Linked DNA regions of Homo sapiens: region 2 is linked to region 1. A link means that fine-mapping ties the variant in region 1 to the expression of a gene that starts in the linked region. Tissue or cell type: whole blood. Region 1 holds a variant in brackets; the other region holds the start of a gene. All regions are shown on one strand. Distances are from middle to middle.

Evidence for each region. PIP is the estimated chance that this variant, and not a neighbour inherited with it, causes the effect.
Region 2: KLHDC4 starts here. The variant in region 1 is fine-mapped to the expression of KLHDC4 in whole blood (TOPMed, PIP above 0.99). The same link has a PIP of 0.9 or more in blood mononuclear cells.

Annotation. Positions count from the first base shown.
Region 1 is chr16:87,710,011-87,718,110 of GRCh38, forward strand. KLHDC4 (kelch domain containing 4) reads right to left here. Exons shown (of 12, transcript NM_017566.4): 8 at 4,488-4,563; 9 at 1,225-1,433. Among named protein-coding and RNA genes, the nearest start is that of KLHDC4, 52 kb to the right of the region's middle. RefSeq lists a silencer at 6,765-6,953. The variant T/C (reference allele first, on the strand shown) is at 3,588.
Region 2 is chr16:87,762,897-87,770,996 of GRCh38, forward strand. It overlaps KLHDC4 (kelch domain containing 4), which reads right to left and starts at 3,090. Exons shown (of 12, transcript NM_017566.4): 1 at 2,896-3,090. The coding sequence starts at 2,994. LOC105371399 (a long non-coding RNA gene) reads left to right here and starts at 3,145. Exons shown (of 3, transcript XR_933871.3): 1 at 3,145-3,445. It overlaps LOC102724467 (a long non-coding RNA gene), which reads right to left. Exons shown (of 4, transcript NR_120309.1): 4 at 3,435-3,528. RefSeq lists enhancers at 2,378-3,002, 2,986-3,045, 3,126-3,185.

The DNA of each region.
Region 1 (8,100 bases):
GGGAAAACCCAATCACCCACAGTGCTGGCTCCCAGAAGGGCTGGGGAAGCCAGGCTGAGGGGCTTCCTCCCCTTTCCCAAGCAAGACAGACGGTCAGGCCCACAAGCCCAGCTCATTTACTACAAACGGCGAGCCAGAGAGGGGCCCTTCCTCACCAAACGTTTTTAAAGGGGAGCTCTCAGGTCAGGCTGCCTCCTGCAGGACAGCTGTCCATCCCTCTCTGTCCCACTTCCCTGGCTGCGTCGCAGGGGTCAGTCTGGACCCTTCTGTCACAGCCTTTGTCATTTTGTCACAAAACGCTGCCAGCTCACGAGGTGACATTTGCCAGGTTATTTCCAAATTTTCCAAGGATCACTACCTCCAGATCAACCCAAAGTCAGCTTCACATTCTAGACTTCTAAGATCCACTTTGTGTCTGGACTCTGCAACAGTGAGTTTCAAAAGGGAAAGCTCTCTGAGGTCCTCCGTAATCCTGGGGAATGTCAACGGCCCTGAGATCACAGTGTGAGAACCGTGACACTAGCTGGGGTCAACACGCTCTCTGAAGAAAAGCCACAGGGGAAACCTGTGTAGACTCTGCTTGGAGCAATTCCTTCTAAAGTAAAAGAGCGAGGCGGACTGTGGGTCCAGAAACGAACCCGCGTGTTTTTCCAATTTCCAGCCCAGGTGCCACCACACGTCAAAAGCAGCTTCAGGAGTTTGCAACCAACAGCGACCAGCCCTCCTTGGCCCTTTCTGGGTCCGGCTGACCTGGTACACTCAGAGACCCTGAGGCCAACTGGGGGATCCCCTTCTGGGACTGTCACCCACTGCTGTGCCTGTGCTGGGCTGGCCCTGGACAGCAGCTATGCTCACGTGGACAGTAAAGATGGTGTCGGAAACCAGGGAAGCTCAAGGGTCATAACACAGGCTGGTCCACACCAGGACCTCCAGCAAACCCTTCTCACACAGAGGGCCGGGGAGGTCCCGGGCACCTCAGCCCAGGGCAACTGGCTTCTGAGGTAGCAGCCCCGCCAGCATCCAGGACAGACTAAGGGGACCGTGACCAAGGGCTCTCCAAGCCTAGTCACCCAGGACAGTCAGAGACGGAACCCTCGCCCCTCTTGAGAGAGCTCATGGGCTTTGGGGGCCCCAATACCAAAAGGTGCTGGAGGAAGGCAGTGGTGGCAGGGACCCAAGTTAGGGCTGCGCACCACGGCGCATGCTACTCAGAGGTTGCACTACCTTCAGCTGTCCCTCAAACCAACGGTTCCTGGTGGCGTCGTAGAAGTACAGATCGTTGAAGAACTCGCCCGACAGGCTCTCCTCCTCTTCCTCGTCACAGACACCCCCGAAGAACAGTGTCTGGTGATTCGGGGCCATGGCCACGGAAAAGCCAGACCGTGGGGTGGGCTTGACCCCCGAAGGGTTCATCCGAGTCCAAACCCACTTGTCTGTCAAAAGAGAACAAGGAAGTGGGATAAGAACACAAGGAAGGACCCTGAGAGCCAGCCCAGGACACGCTCAGGACCCCAGGTGCCCCCCAGAATGGGGTAAATGAAAACCGTGAGACTGTGGGCAAAAACTCTGCTCCCTCTGCAGAAAAACAGACACCATTCAACTCCCCTCGAGTTCCACCCTTTTCCTTAAGAGAGCTGGCATTCAACAGCTTTCCACACACCCCCAAGCACCTCTAAACTAGGGGCAGCTACAAGCCGCAGTGGAAAGGCAGGGATTGGGCAGAAGCAGCACACACGCTAGACACACAGAGGGGCTTCTGTGGGGAGGCTGCCCTGCACAGGGACCCTCCGCCCGGCACGGGGACCCTTCGCCCAGGGGGCTGAGTGGCCTGCACCAGCCCCCCTTGGGCCTGCACGGGGACCCTCCACCCTGCACGGGGAACCTTCACCCAGGGGGCTGAATGCCTGTGCCAGCCCCCCTTGGGCCTGCACGGGGACCCTCCGCCCTGCAAGGGGACCCTTCGCCCAGGGGGCTGAATGCCTGTGCCAGCCGCCCTTGGGCCTGCACGGGGACCCTCCGCCCTGCACAGGGACCCTTCGCCCGGGGGCTGCAGTGTGGCCAGCGAGGAGCCTTCGCCTGGGGTCTGAGTGCCTGCACCAGCCCCACCTTGGGCTGCAGTGTGGCCAGCTCTACTTCAGGAAGGGTCTATGTTCTCTCTTGGCACGCGCCTATGTGATGTGCCAACCCTCAAACAGAGCCCAATGTGCAGATGTCTCCCCACCACTTCTAGGAGACAGAATGGAGATTTTTTTCCTCCAATGAACATTTAAAAAAAAAAACAGAAGCAGCAAATGGACGTATTCTGTGTGGTGCTAGACGTCACCCGCCCATGCCCAGTGTGGGCGTGGCTCTGGGGCCCCCGCCTCATTCCCACCAGCACATGACTGTGTGAAGGAACAGGGAAGACCACCACAAGAACTCGCCACACAGGGCAGGACCCTCTCCGGTGACAGAAACCCACACACACAAGGTGTGTCGCTCCTCACCACGATGCTTTCCTCCTGGGGGCTGACGAGCAGAGCACACAGGCTCAGGGCCGCCCTGCGGGAAACAGTCCAGCATCCAGGTTCAAGTTCACTGGGGTGTAGGCTGGAAAGTGACTGAAAGAAGGCGTCTGTCCTATCAGCCAGGGTGCAGTAAGGCAGGGCCCTGGGAGAGGCACCTGGGCCTTTTGACAGGCAAATGGGTGTGGACTCAGATTAACCCTTCGGGTATTTCTGAGGCCTCAGCATGAGGAATTTTAGTGCAAGAAGGAGGTAAAAACACTTTGCACAATGGTCCCCTCTCCTGGGGAGGCTGGAGAACTTGCTGTGGGTCACAAAAGCAGACCTGGCCTAGGCATTGGGTCTCCTGGGTCTAGCCCAGCCCTCTGGTCCCAAGCCACAGCCTCCCATAAGAGAGCTGTCCCCTGGTTTCCTAACGGCACTGGGGACGCTAAACTCCACGGCAAACACCCTTGATCTGTGCCTCCTGGCATCACTCTCTTGCTCTGGAGCAGAACAAATGCCATTGTCTCCTTCTATTTATTTTTTATTTTTTGAGACAGAGTCTCACTCTGTTGCCTAGGCTGGAGTGCAGTGGCACGATCTCAGCTGACGGCAGCCTCCACCTCCTGGGCTAGAACAATCCTCCCACCTCAGCGTCCCCAGTAGCTAGAACTACAGACGTGCGCCAGCACACCTGGCTACATATTTTTTTTGTTTTTTTGAGACAGAGTCTCGCTCTGTCGCCCAGGCTGGAGTGCGGTGGTGCAATCTCGGCTCACTGCAAGCTCCACCTCCGAGGTTCACGCCATTCTCCTGCCTCAGCCTCCCGAGTAGCTGGAACTACAGGCACACACGCCAGCACACCTGGCTACGTTTTTTTTTTAAGAGATGGTGTGTCACTATGTTGCCCAGGCTGGTTTCAAACTCTTGGCCTCAAGCAATCCTCCCACCTCAGCCTCCCAAAGTGCTGGGATTATAGGTATGAGCCACTGCGCCCAGCCAGTAACAAATGCAATTTTTTTCAAAATCAAGAAATTAATGATTGAAAAGTAGCAGGCCACCCCCATCCCCCCGCCCATGCTCCACACAGGCACGGCTTCT[T/C]CCGCTTCAGAGGTCTGTGAGAACTGACGGGCAGCCACTGGCAGGAAACGCCGCCAACAGTTCATCTCAGCACATGACCCACGCCCAGGAACATGAAACGTGCCATGTGTAGAAGGTGGTGAGAGTGGCTGACACATCCTGGGCCCTCTGGGTGCCAGAGCCATGTAAAGGGCTGTCCCCTAGGTCATCCCATGTCATCCTTTTAAAAAGTCCCAGAGAATGATGATTGTTCCCCTGTGCTTTAGTAAGAAAATTTTGATTCTTAGATCCCAGTTTAGCTAAAAGCTTTTAGAAATCTAGGCATTCTAACAGCCCCGAGTTCAGTAACTCAAGCTGACAGAGGCCACGGCCGTTCTTGGAGGCCGTCCCTGTGAGGGCCAATAGCAGTCTCGGTGATGACTTCTGAAGTTCTGTGCATGAGCAACACCGACCCCTGGCTGGGAAGCCCACACCCAGCCTGCCCAGCTGCTGCCCGCAACCACCCCAAGAGCGAGGCCCGTCACCACAGTGCCAGGCAGCCCCAGTGACTCCTGGTGGCTTGTACTCAAGGCCCAGGATGGTTCTCCCTTCGAGAGCTCAAGACCCTTGGAGGGGCCCATCAGGAGCTGCTGAGGGGCACTGTGCTCACTGCTCCACAGAGGGCTGTCTGCAGGGTAACAGCGCCCGTGCTTCTCAGTCAGTCCATCATCAATGCCCCCAAAGGTGATTGCCCAGCAGACACCAGGGCTATGGAGCCTGTCCCACCCGGCCCACCCCGAAATGAGCCATCTCGGCAGGCCCTCCGCTCCGGGCAGGGTGCAGGGGCTCACCGCCAGCCCCACATCCATGGGAGGGTGTGGGCTCTGCCTCCCGCCACACACAGACCAGCCAGCTCCCGCCCTGGAGGCACAGCACCTCTACCTTCTCTTCCGTCCTCTGGCTTCAGCAGGAACATGTCTGAGTGCCGTGTGCCCTTGTCCACGTCTTTCTTAACTCTCTGCAATGGAAAGGAATTGTGTGAGAACCGGGGGCAGCTACAGTGGTTGCTTACAGACCCCCCAACCCTGTGGGCGCATTTTGGATGGAAGGGGCTGGAGGCCTTCCCTGTAGACCAGCCCCAAAGCTCCAAAGCGTGCCTGCAGTGTGCTCAGGGCTGGCACCACCTGACAGGCTTTATCCCCCAAATGGGTCCATCTGAAGAGGCCACCTTTCTAATGGCCGCGATCACACAGTACACTAGAGTTCCTGTCGGGGCACGCACAGCTTCCACAGCAGCCCTGGTCTGTGTGGAAACCACCACAGGGGCCTCTGATACCATTACAGAGTCACTCTTTGTTCCTGATCCCGGTGGATCCCCACCGCCTTCCAAATAACACGACTCAGGCTTCACAGCAGAAATCAAGTTACTACTGTGTGCAGAGGGCAGGCACTGCCCACTGAAAGACTTCTCCAAGCTTCGAAAACAACGCGCTCCATGTCCCTTAGCCCTTAGTCTTCTGCCTCAAGTGAGCCTCAGCTGGACCAGGTGCACTGTTCCCCAGCACCCATGCCCTACAAGTCCTGGTGCCACACCCATTACCTGGGACCTAAGGTTGTGAGGGAGATAGCCAGCAAAACGCTCACCCTGGGTGGAGGGCCCCCATCCATTTCCATCTCATCTTTGTATTTGTTTGCACTTTAATTCTCTATTTTTAATACACTATTTTAGAAGTTTTGTATTTGCAGAAAATTGAGACGATAGTACCGAGAGCTCTCACACGCCCACACCAATGTCCTCCCAGCATGAATACCTTCCTCTCCTTGGCGCCCTTGTGACGGATCAGGAACCGGCACTGACCCGTTACCGGGAGCGTGGCCCACACTTCATTCACTGCCCCAGTGCTCCGCAGCTCATCCTGCCCAGGGATCCCGTCGAGGGTCCCACTGGCCGTTTCGTCCTGTCGCCTCCTCAGGTTCCTCTGGGCCCTGAGCTTCTCCGACTCTCCTTGTCTCTGAGGACCATGATAGCTGTGTGGATGGCTCAGGAGTTTTATAGAGTGCCCCTCTACTGGGACTGTCTGCTGTCTTTCTCATTAGACTGGGGTTATGAATCATTAGGACGATCCCCGGGGTGAAGTGCCCATCTCATCACATCCCATCAAGGGTCCACACCATCAACAGGACTCATCACAGTGGATGCTGACATCGACCGCCTGGCTGAGGTCGTGTCTGACAGTTTCTCTTCAGCTCTATGTTCTCACAGATATTGACACAGACTTCGGCCACGCTACTGTGGTCGCAGGGGTAGTGACACAGACTTCAGGCATGCTCTGTGCCTCATGGATACTGACACAGACTTCAGGCACGCTCAGTGCCTCGTGGATATTGACACAGGCTTTGGGCACGCTCTGTGTCTCATGGATATTGACAGACTTTGGGCACATTCTAAGGTCTTGTGGATATTTATGCAGACTTTGGGTAGGCTCTATGTCTCGTAGATATTGACACAGACTTCAGGTACGCTCTATGTCTCGTGGATACTGACGTAGACTTTGGGTACACACTATGGTCTTGTGGATATTTATGTAGACTTTGGGTACGCGCTATGTCTCGTGGATATTGACGTAGACTTTGGGTACACGCTATGGTCTTGTGGATATTGACGTAGACTTTGGGTACGCGCTATGTCTCGTGGATACTGACATAGACTTTGGGTACACGCTATGGTCTTGTAGATATTGACGTAGACTTTGGGTACACGCTATGGTCTTGTGGATATTGACGTAGACTCTGGGTACGCGCTATGTCTCGTGGATACTGACGCAGAGTTCGGCTATGCTCTATCACTACCCATCTTTGTTGCTCGGGTTGTTCAACGACACACAGCTGCCACTAGGAGCCTTTACAGCTACTCTTGGGTCCCTGTGACTTGCACCATCTTTGTGGGTTCCTTTGAGCACCTCCTTAGGCTCTGGCACCACAAGATGCTCAATTCCTCCTATATACTCCCTGCTCGGCCCTACGATTCGCCATTTCTCAAGGGAGCCCTGGTTCCCTTTGTTGGAGAATAGTGTTAGAAACCAAGAAACCAGGGGCCGGGCACGGTGGCTTACACCTGTAATCCCAGCACTTCAGGAGGCCGAGGGGGGTAGACCATGAGGTCAGGAGATCAAGACTAATCCTGGCTAACACGATGAAACCCCATCTCTACGAAAAATACAAAAAAATTAGCCAGGCACAGTGGCAGGCGCCTGTAGTCCCAGCTACTGGGGAGGCTGAGGCAGGAGAATGGCATGAACCCAGGAGGCGGAGCTTGCAGTGAGCCGAGATCTCGCCACTGCACTCCAGCCTGGGCGACAGAGCGAGACTCCGTCTCAAAAAAAAGAAAAGAAAAGAAACTAAGATACCAAGATTTGCTGTAATCCCAGCACTTTGAGAGTCCAAGGTGGGCAGACTGCTTGAGTTCAGGAGTTCAAGACCAGCCTGGGCAATGGCAAAAACCCATCTCTCCCAAAAAATATGAAAATCAGCCAGGCATGGTGGCATGCATCTGTAGTCTCAGCTACTCCCAACGCTGAGGTGGGAGGACTACTTGAGCCTGAAAGGCAGAGGCTGCAGTGAGCCAAGATCATGCCACTGCACTCCAGCCTGGACGACAGAGTGAGACTTCTCAAAAATTAAAAAAATTAAAGAGACCAAGATTTGGGCAATGGATGTGTAAACTGCTACCGGGTAGTATTGTTTCTAGGCCGTCCCATCTGGTAGAGCAAGGAAATATTTGTTTATGGTTATTTTTCTTATAGCTAACATGTACTGTATTTACTATAATGGAAAAAAAACATTTTCCTTTTGAAACATGCAAATGATCCACTGTCCACAGAGACTTCATATTTCCACCTGGGCCTGAGTGTCCTAAAACTAAGAGGGCTCCACATTGGCCATATGGAGAGTGACCTGAATCTCAGGAAGTGAAAACTGAGTCTGGGTCTCTTTTGTTCTCCTTCTGGAAACATCTGTGCAATTCCAGTGATGCAGTTTCTGCACATTACAGACAGTGATTGAGACTAGTCTCTTTTTGTAACAGGTTGATAGAAAATGGCTGTCATTTCCATGCCTGCTTTTCCAAACCTAAGGGCCTAGCATTATTGTGAACTGAATTGACACCCAGAGACTTCATCTGCTGGGGGGACAAGGAAGGAATTCAGTGACGTCTCTATTTGTCATCAGAAACTCAAATCGCTGCTTAGCTTCGGCAGGTCTCTGTCTCCTTGTAGTACCCTGCACCTGTCTATATGAACCGTCTTGTTTTGCTGACAGCAACATTGTCTTCTTAGAATTAACAGCCTATGGGGGAATGTTTTATGCTACAATATTTAAGTACTTCCCCTCCAGACCATGCAAGCCAGAGAGGTGGAGCACTTCACAAGGCCTGATCTGCTCACACGGGTCCACAGGTTCCTTCCGGCACACAGCTGGCTGGCCACACCCTCTAACAGGGCCCATGGTTCGACCTCCCCAACAGCTTCTAACTCCTCCTTCTACAGCAGTTTCTTTT
Region 2 (8,100 bases), 53 kb after region 1:
CCACACCCACCTCTCCAACCTCACCTCCCACCTGGCCTCACTCTCCAAGATACACCAGCGTCCTCTCCGTTCCTTCAATGAAAACGCCAGGTTCCCTCAGCCTGCCACGCCCCACCTCGTGCTTCCTTCAGTCTACCTCTCATCTCAGGGTGAATGTCAGCAGGGTACACTGCTTAGTATTCTAAACGATGCAATATTTAAAACACACAAGTTAACAGAACTTTATCCAAGACATTCCTGTATACGGTTCCCAGGGTAAGGAATAAAGTGTCACCCACATGTACCCACCCACACATTCCCTCAAGTAACCACTATCTGGAACTCGATGCTTATTAGTCTCACGCTTTTCTTCAATCTTTTATTACACATGTGTATCCCTAAGCAACATATAGTATTGTTTTACATTTTTAAATGTCATTAAATGGACTGGGCACAGTGGCTCACGCCTGTAATCCCCGAACTTTGGGAGGCCGAGGCAGGTGGATAATTTGAGGTCAGGAGTTCGAGACCAGCCTGACCAACACGGTGAAACCCCGTCTCTACTAAAAAATACAAAAATTAGCCGGCCACAGTGGCGCACACCTGTAGTCCCAAACTACTCGGGAGGCTGAGGCAGGAGAATTGCTTGAGCCTGGGAGGCAGAGGTTGCAATGAGCTGAGATCATGCCACTGCGACACTTGCTCTGGGTGACAGAGCAGGACTCCATCTCAAAAAAAATAAAAAATAAAATGTCATTAAATGGTATCATACTGTATATTCTTTCAACTTGCTTTTTTTGCTCAACGAGGTTAAACAAACAGTTCAAATACTAACGTCTATGTACCGCGAAAGCTTTGCTGCTGCTACTTAGAGCGGTCTTTGACCTTGGCTGAACCTCATCATCATTGGGTGACTGAAGGAGAGCAAGGTGGTAGGGTCTGGGTGACGCCAGTGGCCTAGCCAGTGACAGCCTCTCCAAAGTGACAATAAGCTGAATGCTGAAAAGACGACTCAGACGGAGTATGGTTGGGGTATAGGTAAGACCACAGACACAACTTGCCATGTTTGAGACACTAAAAGACACTGTGGCTGGAGTGAGCCCAGGGAGACAGCTGGAAAGACAGGCAGAGGCCAGGACTAAGTGAAGGTGCGAACCAGGTGACCTGATACATGAGTTCTGTGGGAGCAGAATTCCAAACTGTCCCCAATCCTTCCCCCAATAATTGCCAGGACTGTGAAAGAATGGGATACCACTCTTGTGATTAGGTTGTATTACAGACACAGCTGAATTTAAGAAAGAGATGATCCTCTGTGGGTCTAGCCTAATCAGACGCCCACTTATTTTAAAAGTTTGTTTTGAGGGTTCATTCAGATAACATACAAACCCCAGGCCTGACAGGCTCTCTCTCTTAAGGGAAGCTACTGTTACAATCACCTTAGTATTGGGTACTGGAGGGAGACATGGAGATGAGTAAAAATGACAGGTAACTGGCGGGGCAAGGTGGCTTACGGCTTGTAATCCCAGCACTTTGGGAGGCCGAGGCGAGCGCATCACCTGAGGTCAGGAGTCCCAGACCAGCCTGACCAAAACGGTGAAACCCGGTCTCTATTAAAAATACAAAATTAGCTGGGTGTGGTGGTGCATGCCTGTAATCTCAGCTACTTGGGAGGCTGAGGCAGGAGAACCACTTGAACCTGGGAGGCGGAGGTGCAGTGAGCTGAGATCGCACCATTGCACTCCACCCTGGGCAACAAGAGTGAAACTCCTTCAAAAAAAAAAAAAAAAAAAAAAAAAAAAAGCAGAAAGCAGCTAACAGCTGGTTACTGAGTGCTTACTTTCTGCCAAGCACCATTCTGAAGATACCACACAGATGAACTGACTTCCTGTGCCACAACCCTAGCCAGCAGGTCATGCCACTGCAGCCCAGCCTAGGTGACAGAGCAAGACTCTGTCAAAAAAAAAAAAAAAAAAAAGAAAGAGCCTAAGAGGAGTGTGAGGGAAAAGTCCAACTCCATTATTTAAGAGATGAGGACATGGAGAGATCAATGACTTAGGAAGAAAAGGGACAAAGGACTGTGGTCAAGAGCTCCTGATTCAGGACATCTGGTCACATCCCAGTTCCATACCACTTCATGGTTCACCTGTTGGTCTTCCTGTCAAATGGGAATACCAGTGCTACGGAACTGACCTGCTCGTGAGGAGTAAAGCCCAGGGAGCTGTGCCTGGCGCACGGCAGGCCATAAAACTGGCCCCGGTTAGGGAATCCATGAGCAGCAGCCGCAGAACACTCAACCCCAAGGTCAGGACGGATCCTCCTGCAGACCCCGGGCTGAGGACCAGAGGGAAGGAGACAACCGTGATGGCCGCCATCAGCTGCTACGGGATACCCCGTGGCTCCAGTGCCTTCTTCACTTAACCATCTGCTGCTCACTGCTCAGGGCTGCTGTGATGATTATTTGCCCTCTTTTGAAAGAAAAGTAAGGTTCAGAAAAGTTAAGAGTCTTACTCCCAGACCACACATCATGCAGAGGCAGCCCCCGGCTCAACCTCAGGTCTTCCTGTGCCAAACCCCTCCCTCTTCTCACCACCCAGCCTCCCTTCAGAGGGAGGGTGGAGGGAGAAGGGAGGAGGGGGAGGAAACGCAGAAAAACGCCCGTGACACCACACTAAGAAAAGCAAGCACGTTAAAGGGGGCAGCTCCGAGAAGCGGACAGACACACGTGGAGACTCAGGAGGGGGCGGGCCCCGTCTGGGCTGCCCGGACGCGGCGCCGGGGCAGTTCCTACGGCCTCCAGCTCTCCCGCAGGGCCGGCGCGGCTCCCACGGCCGACCCGTAACCCCGGGGGGCGCAGGGAGTCGGCCGAGGCTGCACGGCCGCGACGTCGGGCCGCTAAGCCCGGTCTGACCCGCTCACCTCCTCCTTCCGCGAGCGCTTAGACACCTTCTTCTCCATCTTGGCGGCCGTCTTCTCCGCGCCGCGGCCCTTCTTCTCCTTCTTGCCCTTCTTGCCCATCTTGCCGGGTCCCAAGCCGCGACGGGACACCAGGAAAGAAAACGGCCCGCGCTCTCCGCTCGGAAACAGGTGCTCGTGGGGCGGAGCTCGGCGCACAGAAATGGAGTCACTTCCGGCCCCGAGTTCGAGCCGCTTCCGGGTAGAGGTGCGGCTGGGCCCTTTACGAGGTTCGGTCTTGGAGCTCCGTCTTCGGCAGCGGGCTCGGGGGCCTCGGACTCTGCATAAGGCCCCGGAAAAGATGACCGGCCCCGGGCTGGGCGCGGTGGCTCATGCCTGTAACCCTGGAGCTTTGGGAGGCCTTGGCGGGCGGATCGCTTGAGTCCAGGAGTTCGAGATCAGCCTGGGCAACAAAGCGAGACACCACCCCCCACCCCCAGTCGCTACAGAAGAAAAAAAAAAAAATTAACCGGGCGTGGTGTCTCGCGCCCAGTGGTCCTAGCTCCTCGGGAAGGTGAGGCGGGAAGATCGCTTGAGTCAAGGAGTTCCAGGCAGCAATGCGCCCCTGCACCCCAACCTGGGCGACAGAGCGAGATCCTGTTTCAAAAAACAAAAAAGATGGCAGCCCCGGCCTGACATACCCCGGCCATGCTCGCCAATTCTCACGCCCTGTGCCCCCACCTAGCCTGTCCCCGTGTCCTAGGAGACGTGCCCTCTGAGTTTTATTTTTTATTTCTATTTTTTTGAGGCAGGGTCTTGCTCTGTCGCCCAGGCTGGAGTGCGGTAGCGCGATCTCGGCTCGCTGTAACCTCCGCCTCTGGAGTAGCTGGGACCACAGGAGCCCACCACGCCCGGCTCATTTTCTCTTGAGTTTTCCGGGGTGCACGTGCCCCCCGTTAAGGCACATTGCTTCGCCCTGGGTAGAACTAAGTGGGCGACTCTTGGGCTAGCCCCATTTTTTCCCCTCAGACCAAACAAATGAGTGCTTTTTTCCCAGAAAAAAAATTTCACACAGTTATAAGATTTTGCAGATCCTGAGTAAGACAGTCCCTGCCGGGCGCGGTGGCTCACGCCTGTAATCCCAGCACTTTGGGAGGCCGAGGTGAGTGGATCACGAGGTCAGGAGTTCGAGACCAGCCTAGCCAACATGGTGAAACCCCCGTCTCTACTAAAACTACAAAAATTAGCCAGGCGTGGTGGTGGGCACCTGTAATCCCAGCTACTTGGGAGGCTGAGGCAGGAGAATTGCTTGAACCCAGGGGGCAGAGGTTGCAATGAGCTGAGATCAAGCCACTTCACTCCAGCTTGGGCAAAAGAGCAAAATTCCATCTTAAAAAAAAAAAAAAATGGGGGGGCCCTTCCACCTTCCCATTTAAAATGTGCCAGACACTGTTAGGTACTAAGGGCATGTCCTCAAATGTCCTAACATGGAGGACTTTTGTTTCTTCATAGGTAGGCTAGAGCTAATGATAGCACCCTGAAAGGGTACTCAATTTGTGGAGCCTGAGAAATAAAGATAGGTAATATCCAAATGCCTGCTAGGAAATTGTACTCTAGGATTTGCCTCAAATTACGTAAGAAATGGCAAAATCATCTGCAGTGCATGGAATGTTATGATTTGAAAGAGCAGAGTAAAAATGCTTATCACTACTTAGAAGATGTCATCTTTGGATGGGTAATCAAGGAATAAGGCAAATTAAGGACAAGGACAAGCCAAAATTTGGCAAAGGGAAAGCATAAATCAGGAAATAATCTAGTTTATTACTTTGTGTGTGAGTCAGCCTTTAAAAGTTCTCTTAGGCCAGGCGTGGTGGTTCATTCCTGTAATCCCAGCACTTTGGGAGGCTGAAGCGGGCTGATCACGAGGTCAGGAGTTCAAGACCAGCCTGGCCAATATGGTGAAACCCTGTCTCCACTAAAAATACAAAAAAAAAAAAAAAAATTAGCCAGGTGTGGTGGCACCCACCTGTAGTCCCAACTATTCAGGAGGCTGAGGCAAAAGAATCATTTGAACCTAGGCGGCAGAGGTTGCAGTGAGCGGAGATTGCACCACTGCACTCCAGCCTGGGCGACAAAGCAAGACTCCATCTCAAAAAAAAAAAAAAAAAAAGATGTTATCTTAGATCCAGCCAGGTGTGATGGCTCACGCCTGTAATCCTAGCACTTTGAGAGGCAGAGGCAGGCAGATCACCTGAGGTCAGGAGTTTGAGACCAGCCTGATCAACATGGTGAAACCCCATCTCCACTAAAAATACAAAATTAGACAGGCATGGTGGTGCGCACCTGTAATCCCAGCTACTCGGGAGGCTGAGTCAGGAGAATGGCTTGAGCCTGGGAGACAGAGGTTGCAGTGAGCCGAGACTGAACCACTGCACTCCAGCCTGGGCAACAGAGCTAGACTCCGTCTCAAAAAAAAAAAAAAAAAGAAGAAGTTAACTCGGCCAGGCGTAGTGGCTCACATCTGTAATCCCAGCACTTTGGGAGGCCAAGGTGGGCAGATCACGAGGTCAGGAGTTCAAAACCAGCCTGGCCAACATGGTGAAACCCCGTCTCTACAAAAATACAAAAAAATTAGCCAGGTGTGGTGGTGTGCACCTTTAATCCCAGCTACTCAGGAGGCTGAGGTAGGAGAATTGCTTGAACCGGGAGGAAAGGTTGCGGTGAGCCCAGATCACGCCATTGCACTCCAGCCTGGGCAGCAAAAGCGAAACTCTGTCTCAAAAACAAAAAAAGTTACCTTAGATCCAATCAATGACTAGTCACTGAGCAGCTGAGGAGGAATGATTTTCCAACCCACTCCAAGCCTTATCCATAAACCTAGCTCTTTAAGAAGAAAAATGAAATTTGGGGAAATAATGAGAAGAAAAGATAGCACTGGTTGAAGACCACCATGGTCTCCAGCACTGCTTGTAGGAAACCTATGTGGTGGTAGAAAAAAAAAACCGGTTAGGAGCTGAGCAGAAAGGAGCTGGAGAATTTCACAGAAACCCAGCCTGGGCATCCAGGCATGTTTATCTTCCATGACGAACTACAAAAGGCTAAATCCTCACTATTGCCCTCGGGAAATAGTTCTGTCCCCTCTAGTGTACTATGACTTTAAGAACATACGTAATCCTTTAATATTTTTCTAAAAATCCTGGGTAAACCTGAGGCAATGCACTTGAAGCCAAAAGGCTCTTCATTCACAGCACATCTGGCTGCAGTACATTACAGTGGTGCCCACTTCAGGCCGGAGACAGGGAGAGCGTATGACCTATTGAAGATTTAGGAGGATCTGGTGGATGCGGGGTTTAATACTTTTATTATCTGAAAGAAGCTTGAAGCTAAATTAGAAGGCTCTTGGATTATAGGTGTCATGGTGATTTACGTGAGACTGAAATTCTCATACTGAGAAAGACGGAATAGAACATCTAAAATGAGATCAGATCCTAAAATAGTCAAAAGATTAAGTACAAGGCTCTATTTTAGTAAAATTCACATTGTTGAAACTTTCATGGATTATCTTTAATCTGTCGCTGACTTTTAGAGTGTATCTTTTGTGTGATCAGGCGCCCTCTGCTGCCTTCAAGTTGAAGTGCAGAAGAGAAAAAAAATCTATTAATAATAGATTAAATTTTAGGAAAATATGCTAACTTCTAATTATCCTCACCACAAGTAATCAATGTGATTGGAAGGTTCTGCCAAGTGTGGTATGGATTACGTGGCTCTTTGCACGTTTCCCAGCAGGAAAGTGGGAATAATGAACTAGTTCACCTATTACACAGGATTCTTGGGAAAATCAAGTGAAACAATAATAAAGCTTAGGAAAGAGGCCAGGCGCGGTGGCTCACGCCTGTAATCCCAGCACTTTGGGAGGCTGAGGCGGGTGGATCACGAGGTCAGGAGATCAAGACCATCCTGGCTAACACGGTGAAACCCCGTCTCTACTAAAAATACAAAAAATTAGCCGGGCGCGGTGGCGGGCGCCTGTAGTCCCAGTACTCGGGAAGCTGAGGCAGGAGAATGGCGTGAACCCGGGAGGCGGAGCTTGCAGTGAGCCAAGATCGCACCATTGCACTCCAGCCTGGGCGACAGAGTGAGACTCCGTCTCAAAAAATAAAAATTAAAAATAAATAAAATAAAGCTTAGGGAAGTAAAAAAGCAAAACACAAAGGCTTTTTTTTTTTTTTTTTGAGACAGAGTCTCACTCTGTCACCCAGGCTGGAGTGCAGTGGCACTATCTCAGCTCACTGCAACCTCCGGCTCCCAAGTTCTTACCTCAGCCTCCCAGGTAGCTGGGATTACAGGCATCTGCCACCACACCCAGCTAATTTTTGTATGTTTTATAGAGACAAGGTTTCACCATGTAGGCCAAGCTGGTCTCAAACTCCTGACCTCACGTGATCCACCCGACTGGGCATCTTAAAGTGCTGGGATTACAGGCGTGAGCCACCATGCTGGCCTTACTGAATTTTTCCCACTTCTTTGAATCCATTCCAGAGAGAGGAATAATAAGATTTCCAACTATAATCAGGGATTTATCTATGTGTTGCTTATATACAATAAACTGTATATATTTCAAGTGTGCACAGGTGGCTGGGGTGAGGCAGGTGGCTGCTGAGGAGCAAGAGGGATCTACAGTTGTCCCCTGCCCTATGAGAAGGGCCACCCACTCAGGAGGGGCCTCAAGGGATGATGAGAAATGAGTATGGAATTTGTCAGCCTTGAAGTTCCAAATTGGAAACCTGGAAACATGTGTCCCGTCTTCTTCATCAAGATTGTCCAATTTTTTTTCTTTTTTTTTTTTTTTTTTTTTGAGACGGAGTCTCACTCTGTCTCCCAGGCTGGAGGGCAGTGGCGCTATCTCGGCTCACTGCAAGCTCCGCCTTCCGGGTTCACGCCATTCTCCTGCCTCAGCCTTCCAAGTAGTTGGGAAAACAGGCGCCCGCCACCATGCCCGGCTAATTTTTTTTTGTATTTTTAGTAGAGACGGGGTTTCACCATGTTAGCCAGGATGGTCTCGATCTCCTGACCTCGTGATCCGCCCGCCTCAGCCTCCCAAAGTGCTGGGATTACAGATATGAGCCACCGCGCCCGGCCGATTTTCCAGTGTCATAGCATAAAGCAATAAGTGATGTTCTTCTAATTAAAACAATAAATTAAAGTGTAGAATTTAATATGTATTAATAC